Linked DNA regions of Homo sapiens: region 1 is linked to region 2. The links come from fine-mapping of genetic effects on gene expression. A gene starts in region 2. The other region holds a variant in brackets. All regions are shown on one strand. Distances are from middle to middle. Region 1 overlaps ZNF566 (zinc finger protein 566). Region 2 holds the start of APLP1 (amyloid beta precursor like protein 1).

What was found.
Region 1: its variant is fine-mapped to the expression of APLP1 in breast (GTEx, PIP above 0.99).

The regions. Positions count from the first base shown.
Region 1 is chr19:36,436,968-36,445,295 of GRCh38, reverse strand. It overlaps ZNF566 (zinc finger protein 566), which reads left to right. Exons shown (of 5, transcript NM_001145344.1): 5 at 1-177. Among named protein-coding and RNA genes, the nearest start is that of ZFP82, 22 kb to the right of the region's middle. The variant G/A (reference allele first, on the strand shown) is at 3,390.
Region 2 is chr19:35,864,313-35,872,640 of GRCh38, reverse strand. APLP1 (amyloid beta precursor like protein 1) reads right to left here and starts at 4,067. Exons shown (of 17, transcript NM_001024807.3): 1 at 3,858-4,067; 2 at 2,831-2,974; 3 at 1,613-1,745; 4 at 1,292-1,404; 5 at 896-1,029; 6 at 605-783; 7 at 28-158. The coding sequence starts at 4,004. KIRREL2 (kirre like nephrin family adhesion molecule 2) reads right to left here. Exons shown (of 15, transcript NM_199180.4): 14 at 7,928-7,993; 15 at 5,505-6,484. The coding sequence ends at 6,149. LOC107985317 (a long non-coding RNA gene) reads left to right here and starts at 3,284. Exons shown (of 4, transcript XR_001753932.2): 1 at 3,284-3,549; 2 at 4,511-4,766; 3 at 6,048-6,154. RefSeq lists silencers at 3,827-3,896, 3,987-4,246.

The DNA of each region.
Region 1 (8,328 bases), 570 kb before region 2:
CTACTGAATTAAAATACTATCAGTTGTATATTAAATGCTCACATCTATTTCTGTTCTCCATATTCTAGCAATCCTTGACACTTTTCAATAGCTTTTATTACTTGGAAATAAAGATGTATGTATATATTATTAATATATAGTTTATTATTTGGAAATAAAGATGTTTCTTCATGAGAATTTTTGACTCATTTATTTTCCAATGAAAACCCCATTAGGATTATATTTTGAATTTCATTCAGTTTAAATGCAGAGTATCCTACATGAATAAACAATTGACACTGAATGGAATTCATTAACACATCTTGAGGTTTCTTTTATAACTCTTCATCCTCTTGACTCTCTAATATCTAATAATAACACCATCTACTGTGATGTCTCACAATACTTAAAATATGCTAGTAATACCTGAAAATTTATTAGAGTTCTGCTTATAAGGTGATAGATTCTTTTGGGCTCTATAGTTATATAATCTGCAGATAAAGGTGACATACCTATCTCACAATATTTTTTATATCTATTTTATTTTATTTTATTTGAGACGGAGTCTCCCTCTGTCGCCAGGCCGGAGTGCCGTGGCGCGATCTTGGCTCACTGCAACCTCTGCCTCCTGGGTTCAAGTGATTCTCCTGCCTCAGCCTCCTGAGTAGCTGGGACTACAGGTGCACACCACCACGCCCAGCTAATTTTTGTATTTTTAGTAGAGACAGGGTTTCACCATGTTGGCCAGGATGGTCTCGATCTCTTGAACTTGTGATCCGCCCGCCTTGGCCTCCCAAAGTGCTGGGATTATAGGCATGAGCCACTGCGCCTGGGCCATCTTATTTTCTTATTGCATATGCAGACCACAGACCTGGTGAGAGTGGGTATTGGGCAGCACTTTTTTTTTTTAACCATATTTTACTCATTTTTTACAGAACAGCCAGTTTTTGAGATTTTGTTTTCTTCTTCCTATTTTTAGCCCTACTCTTGTTTGTGTGTTATAAGAGAAATGACTTATTGCCTTGGTGAAATGTGTTAAAACTGTGTATATTACCTCCCTTCATTGGACCCTTAATTTCTCCATGGTCTCTAGTACAGGCTATGATTTTCTATTCCTACTTTATAGAAAATAGATTTTCTATTCCTATTTCCATCCCATTTTCATTCAACTGAAAATGTGATGGGCAATATCTATACTTTATATCTGTGAGGATTCTGTGTAGACATTCTGTCATCTTACTTTTAAGTGTAAACTACAGAAATAAACCACAGGTTCAATGCAATCCCTATAAAAATACCAATGACATTATTCACAGAAATAGAAAAAATAGCCCTAAAATAGCCACAAAAGACCCAGAATATCCAAAGCCATCCTAAGCAAAAAGAACAAAACTGGAGAAATCACATTACCTGACTTCAAATTATACTGCTGAGCTATAGTAACCAAAACTGCATGGTACTGGCATAAAAACAGACACATCAACCGATGGAACAGAATAGAGAACCTGGAAATACATCCGTACATCTACAGTGAACTCATTTTCAACAAAGGTGCCAAGAACATACATTGGGGAAACGATAGTCTCTTCAGTAGATGGTGCTGGGAGAACAATATCCACATGCAGACTGAAACTAAACCCCTACATCTCACCATATACAAAAATCAAATCAAAATGAGGCCAGGCATTGTGGCTCATGCCTATAATCCCAGCACTTTGGGAGGCAGAGGCAGGTGGATCAGCTGAAGTCTGGAGTTTGAGACCAGCCTGGCCAACATGGAGAAACCCCGTCTCTACTAAAATACAAAAATTAGCTGGGTGTGGTGGCATGTGCCTGTAATCCCAGAAACTCTGGAAGCTGAGGCGGGAGGATCGCTTGAACTTGGAAGACAGAGGCTGCAGTGAGCCAAGATCATGCCACTGCACTCCAGCTTGGGCAACAGAGCAAGACTGTCTCAAAAAAAAAACAAAACAAAACGGCGGGGCACGGTGGCTCACGCCTGTAATCCCAGCACTTTGGGAGGTCGAGGCGGGTGGATCACGAGTTCAAGAGATCGAGACCATCCTGGCCAACATGGTGAAACCCCATCTCTACTAAAAATACAAAAATTAGCTGGGCATGGTGGCACGCGCCTGTAGTCCCAGCTACTTTGGAGGCTAAGGCAGGAGAATCACTTGAACCCAGGAGGTGGAGGTTGCAGTAAGCCGAGATCACACCACTGCACTCCAGCCTGGCGACAGAGCAAGACTCCGTCTCAAAAAATAAAATATGAAAAACATTAGCCAGGCATGGCGGTGCGAGCCTGTAATCCCAGCAACTTGGAGGCTGAGGCAGGAGAATCACTTGAACCTGGGAGGCGGAAGTTGCAGTGAGCCAAGATCGCGCCATTGCATTCCAGCCAGGGAAGAAAAAAAAAAAAGATTAAAGACCAGGATATTGGTCTGGACAAAGATTTCTTGAGTAATAAATACCCCAACATCCCAGGTAATGAAAGCAGAAATGGATAAATGGGATCACATCAAGTTAAAAAGCTTCTGGAGCACAGCAAAGGAAACAATCAACAAAGTGAAGGGACAACCCACAGCATGGGAAAAAAATTTGCAAACTATCCATCTGACAAGGGATTAATAATATACAAGGAGCTCAAACAACAGGAAGAAAATCTAATCTGATTTTTTAAATGGGCAAAAGATCTGAATAGACATTTCTCAAAAGAAGACATACAAATGGCCAACAGATATGTGAAAAGGTGCTCAACATCACTGATCCTCAGAGAAATGCAAATCAAAACTACAATGAGATATCATCTCACCCCAGTTAAAAAGGGGTTTTAGGAAGCTGGGCCCAGTGGCTTATGCCTGTAATCCCAGCACTTTGGGAGGCCGAGGCAGGTGGATCACCTGAGGTCAGGAGTTCGAGACCAGCCTGACCAACATGGAGAAACCCCAATCTCTACTAAAAATACAAAATTAGCCGGGTGTGGTGGCGGGTGCCTGTAATCCCAGCTACTCGGGAGGCTGAGGCAGTAGAATTGCTTGAACCCAGGAGGTGGAGGTTGCAGTGAGCCGAAATCGCACCATTGCACTCCAGCCCAGGCAACAAGAGTGAAACTCTGTCCCAAAAATAATAATAATAATAAAATAAAAATAAAATGGCTTTTATCCAAAGGACATGCAATAACAAGTGCTGGTGAGGATGTGGAGAAAAGAGAACCCTCATATGCTGTTGGTGGGAATGTAAAGTAGTACAGCTACTATGGAGAAAAGTATGGAGTTTCCTCAAGAAAATAAAAACAGAGCTACCACTTTGGGAGGCTGAGGCGGGTGGATCACGAGGTCAGGAGATCGAGACCATCCTGGCTAACATGGTGAAACCCTGTCTCTACTAAAAATACAAAAAAAAAATTAGCC[G/A]GGCATGGTGACAGGTGCCTATAGACCCAGCTACTCAGGAGGCTAGGCAGGAGAATGGCGTGAACCCGGGAGGCGGAGCTTGAGTGAGGGGAGATCGCACAACTGCACTCCAGCCTGGATGACTGAGCAAGACTCCGTCTCAAAAAAAAAAAAAAAAAAAAAAAAAATAGAGCTACCATATGATCCAGCAATCCTGCCACTAGATATATACCCAAAAGAAAGGAAATTCATATATTGAAGAGATATCTGCACTCCCATGTTTATTGCAGCACTGTTGATAATAGCCAAGATTTGGAAGCAACCTAAATGTCCATCAATCAATGAATGGATAAAGACAATGTGGTATACATACACAATGGAGTACTATTCAGCCATAAAAAGAATGAGATACTGCTATTTGCAACAACATGCATGGAACTAGAGGGCATTATGTTAAGTGAAATAAGCCAGGCACAGAATGACAAACTTCACGTGTTCTCACTCATTTGTGGGAGCTAAAAATTAAAAATTGAACTCATGGAGATAGAGAGTAGAATGATGGTCACCAGAGGCTGGGAAAGATAGTGGGCAGGGGAAGGGGATAGTAGGGATAGTTAGTGGGGACAAAAATATAGTTAGATAGTATGAATAAGATATAGTATTTGACAGCACACCAGGGTAACTACAGTCAACAATAATTTATTGTATATTTAAAAATAACAGAGTAGAACTGAAATGTTTGTAACACAAATAAGTGATAAATACTTGAGGTGATGGATATCCCATTTCCCCTGACGTGATTATTCCACATTGTATGCCTTTATCAAAACATCTCATGTACCCCATACATATAAGCATGTGAAAAGCTACATAAAGGAAAAAGGGGAGTAAAAAAGAAGTAATCAGTAATAATATATAACTGTATGTTAATCAGATAGATGCTCCAGTCTTTTTTTCTATAAATCATAGTTGTGACTCATTCCCTTTTACTTAGCAAATTGGGAGGGTTTGTTGTTGTTGTTTTGAGACGGAGTCTTGCTCTGTTGCCCAGGCTGGAATGTGATGGCTCAATCTCGGCTCGATGCAACCTCTGCCTCCCGGGTTCAAGCAATTCTCCTGCCTCAGCCTCCCTAGTAGCTGGGATTACAGGGACCCGCCACCACGCCTGGCTAATTGTATTTTTAGTAGAGATGGGGTTTCACCATGTAGGCCAGGCTGGTCTCAAACTGCTGACCTCTTGATCTGCCTGCCTCAGCCTTTCAAAGCGCTGGGATTACAGGCATGAGCCACCTTGCCTGGCCCGCCTTTCTTTTCTTCCCTCCCTCTGTCCCTCCCCCCCTTTTCTTTCTTTCTTTCTCTCTCTTTCTTTCTTTCTTTCTTTCTTTCTTTCTTTCTTTCTTTCTTTCTTTCTTTCTCTCTCTCTCTCTTTCTTTCTTTCTTTCTTTCTTTCATTCTTTCTCTCTCTCTCTCTCTCTCTTTCTTTCTTTCTTTCTTCTCTCTCTCTTTCTTTCGTTTTTCAGACAGGGTTGTAGCTCTGTTGCCCAGGCTGGAGTGCAGGGGCACGATCATGGGTCACTGCAGTCTTGATGTCCTGGGCTCAAGCCATCTTCCTACCTCAGTCTCTGCCAAGTGACTGGGACTACAGGCATGTGCTGCAATGTCCAGTTAATTTTTTTTAGCACCAGTGTGTCACTATGTTTCCCAGGCTCGTCTTGAACTCCTGGGCTTGTGATCTTCTTGCCTTGGCCTCCCAAAAGCTGGGACCACAGGCATGAGCCAGCCACCACACCCAGCTGTGATTGGAAGTTTTTAAAGTGACTCGAATCTTCTTTCATAGGATCCGAATTATTATTAGTTACTATAGTTTTCTATTAACTTTTTCTATTGTAAAAGACAGAGGTAGGAGTTGACCCAGGGGAATCTTTGCATTCTATCCATGTTACATTTAGAAGGTTCAAACCTATTTCCCCCTTGAGAGCCAGGATCAATCAGCCCAGCAAACACCAACCTACTCTCCCTTACCTCTCCCACCCCAACCTTTCATCTGTTGCCCATGGTCACAAGGAGCACCAAATAGCTGCATTATGTTCTCACTTTCCATTTTTTTGTAACCACTGTTGTGTCTCTGGTGAAGGTGCTCTTTCATCTATTCTCCATATTATTTTTAGATAAAGTTTCAAAATCTGGCAATATTTTTGATATGTGGGTTTGATTTTATAATTGGTCATTGAGAGAATGCTGAGGTTTTTATTACATTTTATGGTCTGGATATTACAAGGGGAGCAAGAAAAACAGTAACACCCTTGCAAGGTAACTACCTCAGACAAGATCATTATAGGATTTTGAAGCAAGATATGTCTCACAATGCATTTTGTCTTAAAGTTTCTGTTATTGGGCCGGGCGCGGTGGCTCACACCTATAATCCCAGCACTTTAGGAGGCCAAGGCGGGCAGATCAGCCTGACCAACATGAAGAAACCCCGTCTCTACTAAAAATACAAAATTACCCGGTCGTGGTGGTGCATGCCTGTAATCCCAGCTACTTGGGAGGCTGAGGCAGGAGAATCGCTTGAACCCGGGAGGCGGAGGTTGTGGTGAGCCGAGATTGCGCCATTGCACTCCAGCCTGGGCGACAAGAGTTAAACTCCGTCTCAAACAACAAAAAAAAGTTTCTGTTATTTTAAGTAGTATAGTTACATGAACTTGCTTGTTTATTGTTAGTTTTTCCATCTTTAATTTCTTTTTCTTTTTCTTTCTTTTTTTGAGACAATGTCTCACTTTGTCACCCAGGCTAGAGCGCAGTGGTGCAATCTCAGCTCACTGCAGCCTCCGCCTCCCACGTTCAGGCAATTCTCGTGCCTCAGCCTCCTGAGTAGCTGAGGTTACAGGCGCACACCACCATGCCCGTCTAATGTTTGTATTTTTTTTTTTTTTTTTTAGTAGAGACGGGGTTTCACCATGTTGGCCAGGCTGGTCTCAAACTCCTGACCTCAAGTGATCCGCCTGCCTCGGCCTCCCAAAGTGCTGGGATTACAGGCATGAGCCGCTGTGCCTGGCCTCCATCTTTAATTTCAATGTTTCTGCATTCTTAAGGTAAAGATGGCTTTTGAGAATACAATATGCCTGAATTTTTTTTTTTTTTTTTTTTTTTTTGAGACGGAGTCTTGCTCTGTGGCCCAGGCTGGAGTGCAGTGGCGCGATCTCGGCTCACTGCAAACTCTGCCTCCCGGGTTCGGTTCATGCCATTCTCCTGCCTCAGCCTCCCGAGTAGCTGGGATTACAGGCGCCCGCCACCATGCCCGGCTAATTTTTTTGTATTTTTAGTAGAGATGGGGTTTCACCGTGTTAGCCAGGATGGTCTCGATCTCCTAACCTCATGATCCGCCTGCCTCGGCCTCCCAAAGTGCTGGGATAACAGGCGTGAGCCACCGCGCCCGGACTATACTTGAACTTTTAAAATTCCAGTCTGACAACCTTTGTCTTTTTTTTTTTTTTTTTTTTGAGACGGAGTCTCGCTCTGTTGCCAGGTTGGAGTGCAGTGGCGCAGTCTCGGCTCACTGCAACATCTGCTTCCTGGGTTCAAGCGATTCTCCTGCCTCAGCCTCCCAAGTAGCTGGGATTACAGGCACGCGCCGCCATGCCCAGCTAATTTTTGTATTTTTAGTAGAGATGGGGTTTCGCCATGTTGGCGAGGCTGGTCTTGAATTCCTGACCTTGTGATCCACCCGCCTTGGCCTCCCAAAGTGCTTGCATTACAGGCGTGAGCCACCGCGCCCGGCCCCACCTTTGTCTTTTAAGTAAAGTATTATATTCACTTTTATTCGATGTGATTACTAATATATTTGGTTTTAAATCTATCTTTGTTCTTTTGTTTATCTTGTCAATTATATATACATATATATATATATTTTTCCTCCTTGTTTTCTTCAGGAGCTTTAATAATCATGTCGTTGTTTATGGTTACTAGCTTGGAAATTCTATATATTATTTCTATGCTTTAAGAATTACCTTAGAAAATACCATGCATAACAAAATCCATCAAAGTCTAAAACAGTTATGTCAAAAGCACAACACAGTGATTACAGTCGACAATAATTTATTGTGCATTTAAAAATAAAAGGGTATAATTGGGATGTTTATAACATAAACAGCAAATGCTTGATGTGACAGATACTCCATTTACCCTGGTGATTATTATGCGTTGCATACCTGTATCAGAATATCTCATGCACCCCATAAATGTGTACACCTACTAGGTACCCATAAAAATTAAAACTTAAAATAAAAAAGTTGTGTCAACGTAAAAAGACATAGAGACGAATCGCTAAGTAAAAGGTTTTATTTGGGAATAATATACAAGAAGTAGAACTGCAATTCAGGACATACATAGACGCGTGGTGTCTGGTATGTCTAGAGAACAAATGAAAAGTTTAGAGTTTATTGGGTAAAGAGGAGGTTATGTGAGTTGTTTTTAAATCAAATTTACTTGGCTGGGCACAGTGCCTCATGCCTATAATCTCCTAGCACTTTGGAAGGTTGAGGCGGGTGGATGCTTTGAGCCCAGGAGTTTGAGACCAGCCTGGGCAACTTGGTGGAATCCTGTCTCTTCTAAAAATACAAAAATTGGGCCGGGCTTGGCGACTCACGCCTGTAATCCCAGCACTTTAGGAGGCTGAGGCAGGTGGATCGCAAGGTCAGGAGTTTGAGACCAGCCTGGTCAATATGGTGAAAGCCCCTCTCTACTAAAAATACAAACATTAGCCAGGCATGGTGGCGAGTGCCTGTAGTCCCAGCTACTTGAGAGGCTGAGGCAGGAGAATCGCTTGAACCCGGAAGGCGGAGGTTGCAGTGTGTTGCACTCCAGCCTGGGTGACAGAGCAAGACTCCATCTCAAAAAATAATAATAATAATAATAAAAACCCAAAAAACAAAAAAATAGCTGGGCATGGTGGTGCACGCCT
Region 2 (8,328 bases):
GGGTCCTGGGGCCCCCAGTATTATCACCTCATTAATCTGGCGCATCCTACGCTCCTCCAGGTCCATCTTGGCCCTCAGGAACCCCTCGTGCTCACTGATTTCCCCAGGCATGCCAAAGTAAATATCCACACCGTCTGTGGGCCTCGGGGTGGGAGTGACTGCAAGACCAGGGATCAGGAGGTCAGTCTGCAGCCCACCTCCAGGTCGCCTTTTCTACCTAGAGAACCACATTTCCTAGAGTGCACTGGAGACCATCATGCACCCAGTTTAGCCACCGCTGCTGCCTGGCATTATGGGAGATGTAGTTCTGGACTGGGCCTGTTCTTGCAAAGCTTAGGAATCCATTACACCATCTTCCAAGCTTTCCTGAAATGATCCTCAAGACCTACCCAATGGCCCCTCTACTCCCAAGTACCCCCAAACCACCCCCTCCCTTGGCAGGTTAGCCCTTCTACTTCTATTTTATCCAAAGATACTCTCGTCTTTTCTCCTCAGTTGGGCCTTTCCCCTATAGGCCCCTCCCAAAGACACCCCCCAGCAAGACTCCCCCAGATCTTTCTCCCTCTATGGTGGAGAGGCCCCAGGGGTTCAGAGACTGCCTCACCTTTGCCGACCACTGCAAGTGTATGGGAGCTTGGGGGTGGGACCGTTTCCTCTTCCTCTTCAGCCTGCGGAGGCTCCACGAAGTAATCATCTACTGGCTGTGGGAAGGATTCCTCCTCTTCCTCGTCCTCAGCCCCCTCTACTCTGCTCCCCGGGGGCCAGGACCGGGTGGAGGGGTCACTGAGGGAGCAGGAGAGGACCCAGGCAGTAAGAACCCAGGCCTGGGCTCCCAGGCTTCCATCCCCTGCCTCAGGAACCTTGAGATGGGCATGGAGGGTTCCCTCCCACTCACCCAACTGCTGTCCCAGATGGGTCGGGGGTCCCTGGAGGGGGACAGCACACATACTCCACACCACGGAACCGATCCGAGCCACAGGGTAAGAGCATGCCCGAGCCGTGCAGGATGAGGCCCTGGGAGCTGCAGGCCTGTAGGAAGAGTGGGCCCAGATGCCAGGATTGTGGGATGGGAGGGGGTAGATGGGGAACTGGGCTGCCAGGGTTGGGGGTTGATGAGGCTGGGAGCCTGGATTCCTGCTTCTAGAGGAAGGGGTTGGGGGATGAAATTCTTAGATCCCAAGTGCGAAGAGGATGCTGGTGGCCCAGACTCCTCGGTTCTGGTGGCGGAGGGTGTTAGAGGTCCCAGTTCCTGGGTTGTGGGGGCTGGGGACGGGTGGGCCAACGTCCTGACCTCCTGTGCCTCCTGATGCCTCCGGGTTGAACTCTCACATTGGTCCATGCGCTCCTGGTGCAAGAACCGGCAGCCTTCAGGCACCAGCAGGGCCTCACTCACAAATTCACCAGCTGGGGAAGCACGGGACACCAGGGTGAGATCCTCCTATAGCCACCAACCCCACCCTCCTCAGAATCCAGATATTTTATCCTCAGAGGCTTCTCTGCCCCACTTAGGACACAAGCACCCAGCCCCTTAATGTAGGCCTGAGAGAGGGGCTCAGAACCTTGCCCCTCAGAAACTCCCACCTCAGTTCCCCTCTCCCCGCCTGGGACTCACGCAGGCAGCGGAAGGGCACAACCTGGTGGTGGGGGTGGGCGCAGCTGCCGCTCCGGGAACCCCCGCACCAGCGCTCCATGGGGATGGCCTGCGTAGCCTGCTCCACACGTGCAATCTGCAGCTCCGGGTACATCTGGGGGGATCAGATGGGGGCAATCAGCCCACTGCCCCGCCCCTGCCAGCCACCCCTCTCCAGTAGTCAGGTCCCTTTTCTCTTTCTTTCTCCCTCTTTCTTTCTTTCTTTGAGACGGAGATTTGCTCTTGTCGCCCAGGCTGGAGTGGAATGGTACAATCTCGGCTCACTGCAACCTCCTCCTCCCAGGTTCAAGCGATTCTCCTGTCTCAGCCTCCTGAGTAGCTGGGATTACAGGCACGCACCACCATGCCAGGCTAATTTTTGTATTTTTAGTAGAGACGGAGTTTCGCCGTGTTGGCCAGGCTGGTCTCGAACTTCTGACCTCAGGTGATCCGCCTGCCTCGGCCTCCCCAAGTGCTGCGATTACAGGCGTGAGCCACCGCGCCCGGCCAGGTCCGTTTTCAAGGCTCTAGTATTCATGAGGACATCGCTTCCCTAGGCCCTGCTTCTCCCTAGCACCAGCCTTAGATATCCAAGCTCCTTGTGCTCATTGGCCACGCCCACTAGCAGTTTTCCCTTAAAAGTCCCGTCATCTTTAAGCCCTATCTCTTTTCCTGTGCTGTTTCTTTCTGAAGGTCCCTCTAAGCCCACCTCTCTGGTCACCCCTCCCCGCAGTCAGATTCGTCTCCCCAAAGGTCTCACCCTCCTTTAGGCCCCGCCTTTTCCTCTATTCCGCCTCTCCAAAACTCTCCCTTCCCGTTATAAATTTGTCTTTTCATGGCCACGCCCCCCCAGCTCTCCGCGCTCTCATTGGGCTCCACCCCTTTCCCCATCTTGCTGGTCCTTAAGGTCTCTTTCTGTCTTAGCCCCGCCTATCCTTTCGCCACTCCCCCCTACACCTCTACTCTTTACAAAGACCACCAGATTCCTAAATTCCACTTCCTCTCTGGCTATCTCGCGGCTCTCCCCTTTTCCTGACTTAGTATCTCAAAACAGGTCCCCTGCCCCTAGCATAGTTGCGCCTCTTTATTGGCCACGCCCCCCAGCCTCCACGCCTTAGATCGCGCAGCACCCTGGACCACGCCTTTTTCAAGTCTAGCTTTCTATGGGCGGCCCCGCCTCTCCCGTTCGGCCCCGCCCACCTGTCTGCAGTACTCCAGCACGCGCTGCGGGTCCCGGAGACAGCGTCGAGAGCGCTGTGGGTCTGGTTCCCAGCGGCCGGTGCGCAGGTCCCGGTGAAGGGTTAGGCGCCCGCATAGTCCAGCCACCTGGGCCGACCCCGGGGCCTGGATGGAAGTGGAAAGGACAGTGAGGGCTCGGGGGGCGTTGGCATGAGGGTCCCCTGGTTCTTTGCTCCCTAGGACCGAGACCCCCAGCACCAGCCCCCTCCCCCAAGCACCGCACACCGCCTCCATGGAGGCACCGTTCCCTGGGAAACAGCTCCCGTAGGGCGGGGGCGCCCCAGCGCTCCCGTTGCTATGGCGACCTGGGTCCCCCGGGATTCTTTCTGCCTTGTTGCCGCGGAGACAGACTCCGCCCCCACCCCAGCGCAGCCGCTCTGGAGCCCGAAGGGGTTAAACCTGAATCGCGGAGGAGGAGGCCAGAACCCAGGAGTTCTGGCCCCTCCTCCCTCCATCCCTTGCTCAGGCTCCCGTTGCAGGATGCAAAGCTGACAAGGCCTGGCTTCAGGGGCCTACAGTCCTGGACACCAGGTCCTTGAGGACTGGAGAGCTACATCTGGTTGGGGTGGGTGGTGACTGAAGGACTGGACTCCTGGGTCCTGGGAGGCTGCAAGGGCCTCCATATGGGTCCAGAGAATACAAGGGGTCTGGATTATTGGATCTAAATGCCTCGCTGCTTGGTGGGTCCTATGTCCAGGCGGGAGGGGGTTGGGGCCGAGTCACCTGGGTCTGGAGAGGGGGCTGGACTTCTGGGACCAGGGGCTCTGAATAGACCAGTTCCTATGCTCGAGATGGGAGGGGGCTGGGACGTCGCATGATGGGGGAGCTGGGGCCTGGAACCCTGGGTTCATAAATGTGATTGGGGGCGCCTGGGGGCTGACCACCTGGCTGGAAAGACCGCGCTTTCTGCCCTGGACATGTCCGCGCCGGCGTCCAGAGACCCGGTCCCGCCCCTTCCCCCATCCCCCAGGACCCGGCCCGGCCTCACCTCGGCCGCGCCGGGGCTCCCACCGGCCAGGCTCCCGATGGCGGGCTGCGCGCGCAGAAGCAGCAGCAATAGTGGCAGCAGCAGCGGCAGCGGCGGCTGGCCCGGGCGGCGACTTAGACCGCGAGCAGCGGGGCTGGCGGGCCCCATGTCCCGGCCCTTGCGCCCTCACGTCCCCTGCACTCCCGCCCGGCCCGGCCCCAGCGGTGACAGGAGCTCCCAGCGCCACCGCCGCCACCTCCTCCTCCCGCCGCCCCCGGGCTGCGCCGGCGCCGCCAGCCCCGCCCCGCGCCGGCCCCGCCTTCCTGGTCAGGACAATAGCGTGGCGGCTTCGCGCAGAGTGGAGCAGCTCGGGAACCCCGGGCGGGAGCCTGCGCCAGGCCCCCGCCCCTCGAGATTCCAGGCGTCCCGCCCCATGAAGGGCCCAGCCAGGAGTCCGGCTATGGGCTCCGCCCGTTGTGGATTTTGAGTCCTCCCGCAGGACTCTCACCCTCTTTAGACCCAGACACTCACAGTTTTGTCCTTTTCCAAGGATGCAAGCATCAGAGACCCCCATCCCCTAGTACATTCCTCTGTTGAGGGCTCAGGAATACAGGCCTCCAAAATGTCCCCAGTCAAGAAGGCAGCAGTTGAGACCTAGTCCCTTCCTCTTTCAGATCCAGAAGTCTGGGCACCTTCTCTCTCAGGACCAGAGACCAAGCCCCCAGCCCATTCTCCTTCAGACCCAGGAGTTCACTCTTCTTGCTCTGCTTCCCAAGGGTCCCAGGGGCCTGGACCTTTAACTCCTAGCTCAAGGATCCATGAACCAAAGCCCCCAGGACCTTTCTTTAAGGATCATCCAAGCAGGCACCAGCACCATGCCCACTGTGGATGCAGCACCTCAGGATTAGGGTCTGGATCTCCACGCTTGCTGTAAGGACCAGGGGATTGCCATTTTCCTACCCATAGTCTCCCCTTCCCTGCTCCACTTCAGGGCTCACTTGTTTGTCTCCTCTAATGAGAGTTAGAATTCAGTCTTCCCCAGGACCCCTGGGGCAGCCCTGTCACTTGTGTGCAACTGTGTGGACATCTATGCGTGTGTCTGTGCATACATGCCTATGTGTGTGTCTTTTCTGTTTGCAACTCATGTGTGTGTGTGCGTGTGTGTGTGTGTGTGTGTGTGTGTGAAGATGTATATTAAAAGAGCCCATGGCTGGGCACAGTGGCTCATGCCTGTAATCCCAGCACATTGGGAGGCCTAGGTGGGCGGATCACTTGAGGTCAGGAGTTTGAGACCAGCCTGGCCAACATGGTGAAACCCTGTCTACAAACAAATACAAAAATTAGCTGGGTGTGGTGGCATGCACCTGTAGTCCCAGCTACTTGGGAGGCTGAGGTGGAAGGATGGCTTGAGCCCAGGATGCAGAGGTAGCAGTGGGCTGAGATCATGCCACTGCACTCCAATGTGGGCCATAGAGCCAGATCTTGTCTCAAGAAAAAAAAAAAAAGAGCCTAGAGTGCTTTGCAGGTAGCAAGAGGCTGAGAGGTGGCTCACAGTTTTACTCCTACAGCCACCTCATAGGCTAGGGTAGAGGAGGGACCTTGGGACAGGTCTAAGGGACCCCTTCCTTGGTGGAGAGTGATAATGCCAGTAGACTCCCTAAGACACACTTGCCTCTTTGACTTTTTTTTATTATTAAACATAAATATTTTTATCCCAATATTTTGCCCCAACAGTGGTAATTCTCACTGTATCCCCACTCCTTGGGTCCAAGTCTTTCTGAGTCTTTAAGGAAAGTAAAATCAAGATGGTGGCCATCTTGGGTTCCTAGGGAGTATATGGCCATCTTGGCTGCATTTCCATTGGCCGAGCAAAGTTCCCCTCAGGGAGAGCCAGGGTGGGGCCTGGTATGCTCTTCATCTTCATCTATCCTATGCTACCTTTCCTCTCAATGCAGATGGTCATCTTGAAATATCTTCTTTCAGTGGCTAGAAACAACTTCCATCCCGGCCCCAAACTCCCAACACCCACTGCCCTGTCCCCATCTCTCCTCAAAGGGCCTACCTGCCATCTTGAATCTCTTTTACACCGGGGAATAGGTGGGCATATTGGGTGGCCATGTTGCTCCCACTTGGGGCATCTCCTTTGGCTGAGCTGACTGTATACAAATGCTCCTGACAAATGTAATGATCTTTCCCTCCCCTTGTGTTCAGTTTTGGAGGAGTAAGGTCGCCAACTTGTCCTGGCTCCTCAGAAATCAGAACAATCCATTATGGCAAGTTGGAGATCCCAGGACTCTTCCATTGGAAAGATGTCACACGTGAGTCTGGAGACGCGGGTGGCTAGGTGTGGGGAAGGCAGCATATGGGAAGGGGGGAGTCCCGGGGGCCAGATCTGGGGGCCCAAAGGATGTGGGTTTGATGTAGCTGGTGAAAGCTCGAGGGTGGGGTGTGGTGAGATAGCCTGCCCTGGCTCTGTAAAGTCTGCAGGGGGGGACCATGCCCAGGTGTGGGTTGAAGTCATAGAAGGTAGGGGTCCCTGGGGGCCCAAGGGGGGAGGGTGGTGGCAGGAAGAGACCTCCTCCAGGGGCTTCGCCAAGGCTCAGGCTCACACTGACTCCTCGGACCTTGTAGTAACCGTTGGTTGGGTCCTGAGGGGACAAATGGGACTCAGTAAAGTCTGTGAGCGTGCAGGGGGGATGAGGGTCACTGATGGAGAGACACACTGAAATAGACCAGACCTTGAGAGAGACAAAAAGAGACAGGAGTGGGCAGAGACACAGAGACACACATGGACTGGGAGAGAGAGAAAGTGAGACAGAGGAACAGTGATAAGAGGCAAATGGATAGGACATAGGCAGAGAAAGGTAGAGACGGAGGGATATAGGCCTGCTGAGGGGTGTCGGTGTGGAAGGTGCAGAGGGAACAGGAGAGAGACACTCACCTGCCCAACAGCCTCTAGGCTTTGATTCAGTGTCACACCCTGTGTTGCTGCTACAAGGCATGTCACTAGGATAGAACTGGACCCTGTCCTCACAGAATCCCACACCAAAGGAAAAATGACAGATCATGAGACAGTACCCAGAGGGGTCAGGGCTGTGCCTGGGAAAGGCATAGGCAATGACAGGGGCTGTGATGGTAGAGCCCTCAGCATAGTGGGTGGGATAAGGAAGCCCAGATCAGAGTGGTCATGGCTGTGATGGGTGGAACACAGGCAAAATGATCGAGCTGTCATGACGGAAGCATGGGCTTCCTAGAACAAGAAATGTCTGAGCTGAGACTGGAGGACTAAAGGAAGGAATTAGGTAGACATGGGAAGGAAGGTAGGAGTGTTTCAGGCCAAGAGAATGGCATGTCGGCTGGGCACAGTGGCTCACGCCTGTAATCCCAGCACTTTGGGAGGCTGGGGCGAGCGGATCACTTGAGGTCAGGAGTTCCAGATCAGCCTGGCCAACATGGTGAAACTCCATCTCTACTAAAAATACAAGAAAAATTAGCCAGCTATTAGGGAGCCTGAGGCAGGAGAATGGCTTGAACCCAGGAGGCAGAGGTTGCAGTGAGCTGAGATTGCACCACTGCACTCCAGCCTGGGCAACAGAATGAGACTCCGTCTCAAAAAAAAAAAAAAAAAAAAGAAGAGAGAGAATGGCATGTGCTAGGTACGCAGGAGAGAGAGAGAGAGAGAAGTGCTCTGGCCTGGGGATGGCCTGGAGTCAATGTGGCTGTCCTGAGGTAGGACCCCAGAGGAAGAACCAGTCTGGGGAGATGTGGGGCCAGTGTAGGACCTGGTGGCTGAAAGGGGGCTTGACCGTGATGAGGAGAGCACAGGCAGGGTGAGCCCTGGTCTGGGGCTCCAGATGGAGGCTAGGGCTGGGACAGATGTGTGGGAAGAGTCTGCAGACAGGCAAACTGAGGCTGGGAGCTGAGTGAGATGGCCCAGGGGGCAGGAGGAGTGGGGTGGGGAGCTGAGTCCCAACTCTGAGGACAACAGAAGGAAAAAGGAGGGGACAGGCGTGGGAGAGAGACGGAAACACAATGAAGGGAGCCCCGCCTCTCCCAACAGTGAAGGGAGCCCCACCCCTCTCAACACTCACCTTGGTCTCCAGAGTCCCTTCCTCCTCCAGAACCAGATCACTGTGGTCAGTGTGCACAATGGGGCCCTGGGGTAGGGAACTTAGTGAGAGGGAATAGTCAGAGGATCCCCCCGCCCCAATGCCAGACCCCAAGGACCTTCAGCCAGCCAGTGGAGGCCAGGCAGGAGGGAGTAAGAGCACCCAAGAGCTGGGGACTGCACTCAGGACAATAAAAGGGCTGTAAGAAGCCAGCACAGTGGCTCATGCATGTAATCCCAGCACTTTGGGAGGCCGCAGCAGGAGTATCACTTGAGGCCAGAAGTTTGAGACCAGCCTGGCTAACATGCCGAAACTCTGTCTCTACTAAAAATGCAAAAAATAGGCAGGCATGGTGGCAGGCACCTGTAATTTCAGCTACTCAG